Linked DNA regions of Homo sapiens. The protein of the gene in region 1 purifies or fractionates together with the protein of each later gene. This does not show direct contact. Each region holds a gene or a part of one and is shown in the gene's direction. Other genes may lie near its edges. The genes, in order: IDH2, ACO2 and SCARB1.

Region 1 (3,647 bases):
GCAGTAAGCTATGATGGCATCAGTGCATTCCAGCCTGACCAATGGAACAGGACCCTGCCAAGAAAGAGAGAGAGAAAGGGAGGAAGGAACGAAAGGAAGGAAGGAAGGAAAGAAAGGAAAGGAAGGAAAGAAAGGAAAGGAAGTAAGTAAGGATGGATGGATCCAGGTGCTCTAAACCAGCAGTTCCCAAAGTTTTTGGCACCAGGGGCCAGTTTCATGGAAGACAATTTTTCCACGGGTGGCAGGGTGGTGGGCAGCGGGGATGGTTTTGGGATGAGTCAAGTGCATTACATTTATTGTGCACTTTATTTCTATTATTATTACATTGTAATATATAATGAAAAAATTATATAGCTCACCATAATGTACAATCGGGGGGTCCTGAGCTTGCTTTCCTGCAACTAGACAGTCCCATCTGGAGGTGCTGGAAGACAGTGACAGATCATCAGGCATTAGATTCTCATAAGGAGTATGCAACCTAGATCCCTCGTGTGCGCAGTTCCCAGGCATGAGCTCAGGTGGTAGTAGTGCTCACTCACCTGCAGCTCTCCTCCTGCTGTGTGGCCCAGTTCCCAACAGTCCGTGGACCTGCACTAAAGGCTGTGGCCTGGTCTGCTGACCTCTCTCCAGAGCCCACGGTACTAGTCCATGGCCTGGGAGTTGGGGACCCCTGCTCTAAGCAGTGAGGGAGCTGATTTGCAGACGGGGGAGTGGACACCGGGCAGCTGGAGCCCTGGCTTTCTGCCACTGTCTCCTGGTGAAGGGCGGGCCTGGCTGGGAGGAGAGGGCCCCCCTCCAGCCTCCCCAGGGGCATGATGCGCTGTGTGTCCCTGCTTCTAGATGCCGACAAAAGGATCAAGGTGGCGAAGCCCGTGGTGGAGATGGATGGTGATGAGATGACCCGTATTATCTGGCAGTTCATCAAGGAGAAGGTAGTGCCCCCTCCTGAAGTGGGTGGCTCTCCAGGTGGGCTGGCCAGGGATTGTTCTGTCCCACAGGGTCTTCTGGACTGCAGGTCCCTAGGACCCCCCCGTTGTCCTGGTAGGCAGCAGCAGCTCTGTTTCTCTCCCTCTGTCTACCCTTCTTTCACATCTGGTCCACTAATTGTTCAGAAGTCGTCAGGCGGGGGCCTGTCCCCAGCAGTCCGTGTTGTGATGGTGCCAGATCCCACACGTTCTGTCAACTTTGAGAAGCTTCAAGGTTAATCCTGTATCATTTCCATCTTGATCCCCTACGTTTTGCCTCACTTCTTGAAAAGGAGTGAAAAGGGAACAGGGCTGGTGTGTAGGGCAGTGACCCAGCCTGCAGTTGTGACGAGCCACCATGGCAAAGGGGTCCCAGAGTGGCCGCTTGGCTTCTCCAAAGTTGCCGTGGTCTATGTATGTCCAGGAGAGCATGTAGTCCTTGTGAAGGCCCCACACTGTGTGTGCGTTCATGGGACAAAGGTTGAGAACTGTCACTTCCAACTGTAAGATCTCAAAGCACTTGAGAAGAGGAAACCAGTTGTATAGAGAAATCTAGATGTACTTGGGGTTGGGGTTTGGCTGAGTTGATGGGCCATGTGAGGGGGGCACACAGGCACAGTGGAGGAAGAACCCTCCAAAAGACTGCGGCCTGGCCTGCCAACCTCTCTCCAAAGCCCCAGCCTCTGCCAGCTCTGGCCAGGCCCCACTGAGAAATGGCTGACTCCAGCTTTCTGCTGCGCCCCTCCACTGGCCTTCACTCATCCCTGTTTTGACTGACTGTCCCCTGCCATGGCCTGCAGACTTCTTATCCTGCCCTTTGTTGTCATGTCCCTGAGTCACTGGGGTGACGCCTTGCTCTGGCCCTCTGTCCCCAGCTCATCCTGCCCCACGTGGACATCCAGCTAAAGTATTTTGACCTCGGGCTCCCAAACCGTGACCAGACTGATGACCAGGTCACCATTGACTCTGCACTGGCCACCCAGAAGTACAGTGTGGCTGTCAAGTGTGCCACCATCACCCCTGATGAGGCCCGTGTGGAAGGTGCGAGGGTGTGGAGGTGGGCGGGCCAGGGAGGGTCACAGGCTTCTCCCACCGGCCTCTCCAGACTTGGGGTGGGGCAGTTGGCCATGTCACTCATCTCGGGACTGGGAGGTTGGGAGGCTCCAGAGCTGGGGCTTTCCTGAGGCCAACTGCACCTGAGGCCAGTCTCCCTGTGTGTGCCTGGTGGACAGTGGGGCCTCAGAGGTCACCTTTGATGAGGCTGGGGCAGGCGTGGGTAAGGGGCTGGCCTCAGGTTCCACGGTTAGGGCACAGCAGAGCTGAGAACAGAATCCATGTCTTCCATCTCCCAGGCCAGTGGTGTTTCTGCTTCACTCTGGCTCTGACAGTGGTAGGTGTCATCGGTGACAGGGCTGAGGAGGAGGAGGAGGAGGAAGGTAATGCTGATGTGGTCACAGTAAGGATGGCTTCTTTGGGCAGTAGTCCATTCTGGCGTGGACAGTCTTGCAGGCAGGTATGCAGAGAGATTGTGCAGAGGAGTGCTGTGTGTAAGGCCTGTGTCCTTCAGAGCCTCAGCAGCCTCTGGGGAACATTGCTGTTGCCCTCCTGCCACTGGCTTGGCCTTGCAGGTCTGCCTCTGTCCCCATGGTCATGCAGGGTCACTGAGAGGTGCCCCCACCAGGCCTAGACTGGCTTCTGGTCCTTGGCTGTTGGGGCCGCTCTCGAGGGTTCCATGAAGTCACAGCAGTGTGTGTGCAGAGGGGCCAGGTTTGGATAATTCGAGAAAGGATGGTTGAGGAGTTTTCTGAGCTCTCTCTTCCTACTTTCCACAGTTGGAGGGAGCTGGCGGAAAGTACTCGAGATACATCTGCAAATTCCCCAGGCCTGCCCCTGTCCTGCAGGTCATGCCTGACCCACAGCACTGGGATCATTTGAGTGTTGAGCTCTTCATTTCACCTGAACCTTGGGAGTTGTGTATCCCCATTTATGGACAAGGCAGGAGAGGGTCACAGCCTTAGGAACTGGGGTGGCGTTGGGGCCAGGACCGGAGCATGTGGAGTGGGCAGTGTGTTGTCAGGCTTCGTCAGACAAGTCCTTCCCCCGGACTGTACTCCCTCCATGTGTGATGTGGGAATCATAATGGCCAACAGAGCACTTAGCATGGACCGGGCACCGTTCTAGGCCCTTTACACACGAGCTCATTTCGTCCTCACGACAACACTTAGGCTGGTTATTTTTCCAGTAATTTTTTTTTACAGCTTTGGTTGAGCCACTTTTGTAAGCCTCACCATTAAAACTGGCAGACTTGCTGGGCATGGTGGCTCACACCTGTAATCCCAGCACTTTGGGAAGCCGAGGCGGGTGGATCACCTGAGGTTGGGAGGTCGAGACCAGCCTGACCAACATGGAGAAACCCCATCTCTCCTAAAAATACAAAATTAGCTTGGTGTGGTGTCACATGCCTGTAATTCCAGCTGCTCGGGAGGCTGAGGCAGGAGAACCGCTTGAACCCAGGAGGCAGAGGTTGTGGTGAGCCGAGATCGCGCCATTGCACTCCAGCCTGGGCAATAGGAGCAAAACTCTGTCTCAAAAAAAAAAAAAAAAAAAAAAAAATTGGCAGACTCCAGAGCCCACACATTTGCACTCTAGACTCTACTGCCTTCCTCATGAAGAATTTTAGGA
Region 2 (3,647 bases), on another chromosome or scaffold:
ATTTGTGGCAGGGTGCAGTGTCTCACGCCTGTAATCCCAGCACTTTGGGAGGCCAAGGCAGGTGGATCACAAGGTCAGGAGTTCGAGACCAGCCTGGCCAATATGGTGAAACCCCATCTCTACTAAAAACACAAAAATTAGCTGGGTGTGGTGGCAGGCGCCTGTAGTCCCAGCTACTCGGGAGGCTGAGGCAGAAGAATCCCTTGAACCCAGGAGGCGGAAGTTGCAGTAAGCCGAGATCGCGCCACTGCACTACAGCCTGGGTGACAGAGTGAGACTCCGTCTCAAAAAAAAAAAAAAAAAATTGCCTGGGGCTTTATCAGTAGTTGTTAGTAGGTATGGTTTGAATCTGGACATGTCTGATTCCGAAGCCTGAGGGCTTAGCAACTGGCACTATGCTGCTTCCCTTTGGCATCGAGCTCAGCCTGTGGATCAGGGCACCATAACCTCAGAACAGTGCCAAGTTGAATGTGTACTCTCGTTTGACAGTACCTGCTACCAGGTAGTAAGATTAGAAATAAGAAAATAGAACGTGGGTTTTGTTTTATTTTGTTTTGTTTTTTTAAAGAAATGGGGGTCTCGCTATGTTGCCCAGGCTAGTCTCAAATTCCTGGGCTCAAGCAATCCTGGCTTGGCTTCCCAAAGTGCTGAGATTACAAGCGTGAGCCACTGCAACCAGCTAAGGAGGTGAGATTTTTGAAAAACCACATTTATTCTCTGGTTTTTAGCATTTATTTTTGTGCATATGACTGAGTAGTACACAAGAGGGGCTGAGCAGTTGCAAGTATGTTTATTAGGTGTTTGGTTTTGCCTTGAGATAACTGGGGTGCTGAGGTTTCATGTGACCTTGGGGGAAGTCATGTAACCTCTTGCATATAAATTTGTGATGGCAGTTAACTACAAAAATATTTGGCAGAAACTCTGTGCCATGTTAAAATAAAATCTTGGTTTGAATTGTGAAACAGATGATTCTGGTTGTATGGTCACTGTGATAACCTTCGCAGATATCAGTTGTTATTAGAATTGAGTGAATGAATTGGTAAATAAGCTTCCATCTTAGATGTGGACAGAGGGAACAGACACACCATCCTGAGGATTAAGGGAGCACAGCATTACCTTTCAAACCAACTGCTTCACAGTGTTCTTTGAAAGCTTTGGCTGGGCTCGGTGGCTCACGCCTGTAATTCCAGCACATTGGGAGGCCAAGGCAGATGCATCACCTGAGATCAGAAATTCAAGACCAGCCTGGCCAACATGGTGAAACCCAATAGCTAATAAAAACACAAAATAAGCCGGGTGTGGTGGCACATGCCTGTAATCCCAGCCACTCGGGAGGCTGAGGCAGGAGAATCACTTGAACCCAGGAGGTGGAGGTTGCAGTGAACCGAGATCACGCCATTACACTCCAGCCTGGGCAACAAGAGTGAAACTCTGTCTCAAGAAAAAGAAAGAAAAAGCTTAATGTCTAGCACTGCCTAGCATTGTTCTAGACACTGGGGGTGCAGTAGTGAACAAGAATAGTGGGGCTTAAATTGTTGTCCTGGGGAAATTACGTAGAAAAATAAGAATATTGTATTACTGAGTGTTGTGGGGAAGATAAGGTAGAGAGAATAGGGGTGGGAACATGGCATTTTTAACTGGGGTGTTTGGGGAAGACCTCGTAGAAGAGGTGACATCTGAACTGGGACTTAAATGATACGAACGCAGCTGTTTACCATTTTTGGAGGAGACTTCAAATAGAAGGAGCATGTGCAGAGCACCCACCTAGGTATGAGCTGAGTGTGTTGAGGATAAGAGCTAAGGCCAGTGTTGCTACAGTGTCCTGAGGAGCGAAAGGTCTGAACAAGAGGCTGGGGCTAGGGTCAGGCAGGCTTCGGTAAGGAAATCCAAGTGTAGTGAAAACTGGGAGATTTTAAGCCAGGGAGTGATGTGATCTGATCATCTGGGCTGCTGCGTGCATGATGGACCATAGAGGGTCAAAAGGAGGAGGCAGGGAGACCAGTGGGGGACTGTTGGAGTCATCCCAGGAATGGCAGAGGAGTCTGGGACTAGGGATCTGGGGGGTGGAGATAATGAGATGTATTCAAAATTGGGATATATTTGGAGGCAGATGGGTTGGCGCATGGGAGGGATAGAGAATAAGGGTGACTCCTGGGTTTGGGGTCTTAGTAACTGAGGGATGGGTGAGCTTGATTGAATTCAGTGGTCGTGTGTTTGCAGTCATTTTTTTTTTTTTTTTTTTTTTGAGACAGGGTCTCGCTCTGTCACCCAGGCTGGGGTGCAGTGGCGCGATCTCGGCTCACTGCAAGCTCTGCTTCCTGGGTTCATGCCATTCTCCTGCCTCAGCCTCCCGAGTTGCTGGGACTACAGGCGCCTGCCACCACGTCTGGCTAATTTTTTGTGTGTTTTTAGTAGAGACGGGTTTCACGTGTTAGCCAGGATGGTCTCAATCTCCTGACCTCATGATCCGCCCGCCTCTGCCTCCCAAAGTGCTGGGATTACAGGCGTGAGCCACTGCGCCTAGCCTTTTTTTTTTTTTTTTTTTTTTTTGAGACGGAGTCTCACTCTGTCACCCAGGCTGGAGTGCAGTGGCGCGATCTTGGCTCACTGCAAGCTCCGCCTCCCAGGTTCACGCCATTCTCCTGCCTCAGCCTCCTGAGTAGCTGGAACTACAGGCGCCCGCTACCATGCCTGGCTAATTTTTTTTTGTATTTTTAGTAGAGACAGGGTTTCACTATTAGCCGGGATGGTCTCGATCTCCTGACCTCATGATCTGCCTGCCTCGGCCTCCCAAAGTGCTGGGATTACAGGCGTGAGCCACTGCACCCGGCCTGCACAGTACTTATAAAAATTAGCTAAGGGCAGAATCTCATTGATAAATTTTTGATTCTTTCATCAGTTCTCAAGTACTTTATTTCACAGGTGAGAAAGCCAGATGACGTCAAGTGTCTTACCCAGGGGCCCTCACTTGAGTCGAGTATGAGCATATTGTCTCATGTGGACTCTGTCCTATCTGGTCTTATTGTGAAACCTGGTGTGTGTCCAAGAGGGCCATCTTGTAAATGCTTACCTTTTTTATAAAAAAAAAAAAATTGTTTTTTCCTTTTTTTTTTTTTTTTTTTTTGAGATAGGGCCTCATTCTGTCAGCCAGGCTGGAGTGCAGTGGTGTAATTATAGCTCACTGCAGCCTTGACCTCCTGGGCTCAAGCAGTCCTCCCACCCCAGCCTCCCTAGTAGCTGGGACTAGAGGCATGTGGCACCATGCCCAACTAATTTTTTATTTTTTGTGGAGATGGGGATCTTGCCATGTCACCCAAGCTGGTCTTGAACTCCTGAGCTCCCAAAGTGCTGGGATTATAGGCGCGAGCCACTGTGCCTGGCTAGTGGGAAGAGAGTGTTGAGTCTTCCTTGGCTCCAGCTTTCTTTGACTTGCCTCGTTTTCCCAGCACCTGGTTTGGAAGGCAGTGGTGGGCTCTGGGCCTCTCAGCATGAAGGAAGGAAGGTATTGTAGAGAGACTTCTTGTAGCCTTTAAAAAGCAGCAAATGGGCCGGACGTGGTGGCTCACGCCTGTAATCCCAGCACTTTGGGAGGCTGAGGTGGGTGGATCACAAGCTCAGGAGTTCGAGACCAGCCTGGCCAATATGGT
Region 3 (3,647 bases), on another chromosome or scaffold:
CACACCTTTGCCCTGTACCTGGGTATGGGGATGGCCCTGAGGGGCTGCCTTGCTTGGGAGAAGGGGGGAAAACAGATATTTTTATATAAATAAGAAAAAGACAGCCCCTCTGGGCAGATGAGGCCTGCTGTAGGGCAGGGGGCTTGGTAAACTGTGTGTCCACTGGTCTGTAACCCTTCAGCTGGGTCCTTTTGTGCAGTGAACAGCCTGGACAACTGTCCAGGTGGCCCTTCAGGGATATGTTCCTGGACCTTTCTTAGCTTCTCACCGATCTTTCTTCCACGCCAAGTCCATGTTCCTCAGTCAAACAAGTGGCAAAGAGGAGGAGGAGGAGGGGAAGGAGGAGGAACCTGCTTCACCCTCTGGCACCTGCGGGTTTTGTTCCACGTGTCTTCCTTGGGAAAGACAAGGGGTTCTTTTACAGCCTAGGGGTGGTTTCCCCTTTCTACTTCTGAGTGAGACCTTCTCAAGTCACGGCTCTTTGGGCCCACATGGCTAAGGTCTAGCCACCTGTGGGTGTCCTGTGCTGCCTCAGTGGGTGGTGTGGGGGCGGGGCTGACCTCCCCCGCGCCTGGCTCAGTGCAGCAGACCCTGGCCCCTGTGCCCGCTCTCTGCCCTGAGCAGGAGTTTGATTTTCCTACCCCGTGGTGAAGCAAGCACAGGTGGGCGGAGGTGGGCAGCGGTTTCCAGCCCCAGCCACCGGGGCAGGGAGGCCTCTGTTGCTCAGGGCAAGGGAGGCAGGGGGCTTAGTGGGACGAAGGCTCACCCCACACTCTTATCATTAGCATTATCTGTATTTTTAATTTTTAAGTTGAGAAATTTTCTACAACTGTCAAACTAGACAAATGACAGTATCCAGTTCCCCTCACCCAGACGCAGCCATTGCTGACAGCTGTCAGTGTTGAAGATGGCCAGCATCTCATGCCCTTGGTTTCACTCGTTCCCTGGGTGGCCCTCGTCCCCCTCCCCACGTCCTGCGCCCCGCATACCCTGAGCAGCCATGGCCAGGAACTTGGCACGTGGGTTTGTTTTTTCTGAATCTGCATGTGCGCAGCCATGAGCATGAGGTCACTTTTTGAATGTGACCGAAGCTGCATCCTGCTGCGTGTATTGCTGTGTGGCTGGCTTTCCTCCCTGTCTTCTGTTCAGGAATACTGTTCAGGCTGAATACCGTCCTGTGACATGGGTTTAAAAACACAGGCCAGGCATGGTGTCTCACGCCTGGAATCCCAGCGCTTTGGGAGGCTGAGGTGAGAGGATCGCCTGAGCCCAGGAGTTCGAGACCAGCCTGGGCAACATAGACCTGATCTCTACAAAAAATTAAAAAATGAGCCGGGCGTGGTGGTGGCACGTGTCATTGTCCCGGCCACTTGGGAGGCCGAGGTGGGAGGATCACTTGAGCCCAGGAGTTCAAGGCCGTGGTGAGCCATGATGGCACCACCGTACTCCAGCCTGGGCGACAGAGAGAGACCGTCTCTAAAAAATAAAAAATAAATCAACACATAAACATACGTTCTCCTCCTGAGGGACAGAGCTTGCCCCGGTTGTTCCATGTTGACTGTGCTGCACACAGGCCGCCCCCCTTGCTCTGCCCCTCACTGTATTAAGTCTCTTTGGGCCTCAGTTTCTCCATCTCTAAAGGAGGTCGGGGAGGCCAGGCGGGTGTTGAGTGAGATGAAGAGGCCCTTGGAGTCATTCCAGGAGTCTATAGGTGACTCCAGTCTCTTCTCACTTCTGACAGCCTGGTGGCGGGGGTGGAGTCTCTGCTGGGGATGTGGGTACAGGGCTGTGGTGGGCGGGGATGAGGGTGGGGTTTGGTGACAGGGCGTGGGTGGTCACCCAGCTTTGCCTTTCTCCACAGGGTCCTGAGGACACCGTGAGCCAGCCAGGCCTGGCCGCTGGGCCTGACCGGCCCCCCAGCCCCTACACCCCGCTTCTCCCGGACTCTCCCAGCGGACAGCCCCCCAGCCCCACAGCCTGAGCCTCCCAGCTGCCATGTGCCTGTTGCACACCTGCACACACGCCCTGGCACACATACACACATGCGTGCAGGCTTGTGCAGACACTCAGGGATGGAGCTGCTGCTGAAGGGACTTGTAGGGAGAGGCTCGTCAACAAGCACTGTTCTGGAACCTTCTCTCCACGTGGCCCACAGGCCTGACCACAGGGGCTGTGGGTCCTGCGTCCCCTTCCTCGGGTGAGCCTGGCCTGTCCCGTTCAGCCGTTGGGCCCAGGCTTCCTCCCCTCCAAGGTGAAACACTGCAGTCCCGGTGTGGTGGCTCCCCATGCAGGACGGGCCAGGCTGGGAGTGCCGCCTTCCTGTGCCAAATTCAGTGGGGACTCAGTGCCCAGGCCCTGGCCACGAGCTTTGGCCTTGGTCTACCTGCCAGGCCAGGCAAAGCGCCTTTACACAGGCCTCGGAAAACAATGGAGTGAGCACAAGATGCCCTGTGCAGCTGCCCGAGGGTCTCCGCCCACCCCGGCCGGACTTTGATCCCCCCGAAGTCTTCACAGGCACTGCATCGGGTTGTCTGGCGCCCTTTTCCTCCAGCCTAAACTGACATCATCCTATGGACTGAGCCGGCCACTCTCTGGCCGAAGTGGCCGCAGGCTGTGCCCCCGAGCTGCCCCCACCCCCTCACAGGGTCCCTCAGATTATAGGTGCCCAGGCTGAGGTGAAGAGGCCTGGGGGCCCTGCCTTCCGGGCGCTCCTGGACCCTGGGGCAAACCTGTGACCCTTTTCTACTGGAATAGAAATGAGTTTTATCATCTTTGAAAAATAATTCACTCTTGAAGTAATAAACGTTTAAAAAAATGGGATGCCTGCCTCTGTGACAGCCTTGTTTGCTGAGGTCGTGGGGGTGGGGGCCTCTGGGAAGTTCCGGGCTCCTCTTCTCTTGGTCAATAGCTCCTTTCTGGTGGCTGCCAAGAGCGTCTCTCCCAGGGCCGGGCTGCTGGCTTACCTTCCTGTTGTTTTCAAATTTCAACCTTGTGCAATGTTGAGTTTCATAGAAATACTGCATGAGTACGCCCTTGTTTAGAAGCAGCAGGGTCTGAGTCCCATCCCACAGCCCCCAGTGCAGACGCTTTTGCCACTTTTGCATGGGGCCCCCTGGATGTGTTTCTGTGCATTTATCTACAAATCCTGGTGCCCATAGGACATGCCCCGTGTTGTTCTAGGCCTTTGCTTTCTGCTCGTTACATAAATGGTGAAGAAGAGAAGCGGGTAAGAGAACAGATTGGAGCCATCTAAAAGTTCTCATCTTAAGTGTAGATCATTGCAAAGGATGGAATTTTCTCCGATTGTCATCATCGTTGATGTTTGAATATGAGACCATTTCATCAGTATTTAAGTGTGCCCGCTGGGATCTAACTAGGAGAGGAGAGGGTATTCACTGCCGAACATTTCAAAGAATATACGAACAAGCTCTTTTATGGTCAGAAATGTTAGCCCTTTTCCCCTTAAACTTGTATTTCCTTTCTTCTTCCCTCCTAAAATTTTATCTAAATGATATTTATATTTGATGCTTTTAAGCCTTTTATTAATCACTCCTATACTTGCCTGCAACATAAATATATAAGTTGAAGCAAACTTTTTTTTTTTATTTCTTGTGACCATCAAGGGTAAATTTTTTTAGGTCTGGGGC

The links.
Region 2: the proteins of IDH2 (region 1) and ACO2 purify together in Homo sapiens (affinity purification with mass spectrometry, with the first as the bait; one large-scale study listed by BioGRID). This does not show direct contact.
Region 3: the proteins of IDH2 (region 1) and SCARB1 fractionate together in Homo sapiens (co-fractionation; one large-scale study listed by BioGRID). This does not show direct contact.

The regions. Positions count from the first base shown.
Region 1 is NC_000015.10:90,088,838-90,092,484, reverse strand, and holds part of IDH2 (isocitrate dehydrogenase [NADP], mitochondrial isoform 1 precursor), read left to right. Parts: intron 1-840; coding exon 841-932; intron 933-1,840; coding exon 1,841-2,006; intron 2,007-3,647. UniProt on the Homo sapiens protein: Plays a role in intermediary metabolism and energy production. It may tightly associate or interact with the pyruvate dehydrogenase complex.
Region 2 is NC_000022.11:41,472,067-41,475,713, forward strand, and holds part of ACO2 (aconitate hydratase, mitochondrial precursor), read left to right. Parts: intron 1-3,647. UniProt on the Homo sapiens protein: Catalyzes the isomerization of citrate to isocitrate via cis-aconitate.
Region 3 is NC_000012.12:124,776,801-124,780,447, reverse strand, and holds the end of SCARB1 (scavenger receptor class B member 1), read left to right. Parts: intron 1-1,861; coding exon of another isoform or gene 1,862-1,981; 3' UTR 1,982-3,592; downstream 3,593-3,647. UniProt on the Homo sapiens protein: Receptor for different ligands such as phospholipids, cholesterol ester, lipoproteins, phosphatidylserine and apoptotic cells. Receptor for HDL, mediating selective uptake of cholesteryl ether and HDL-dependent cholesterol efflux.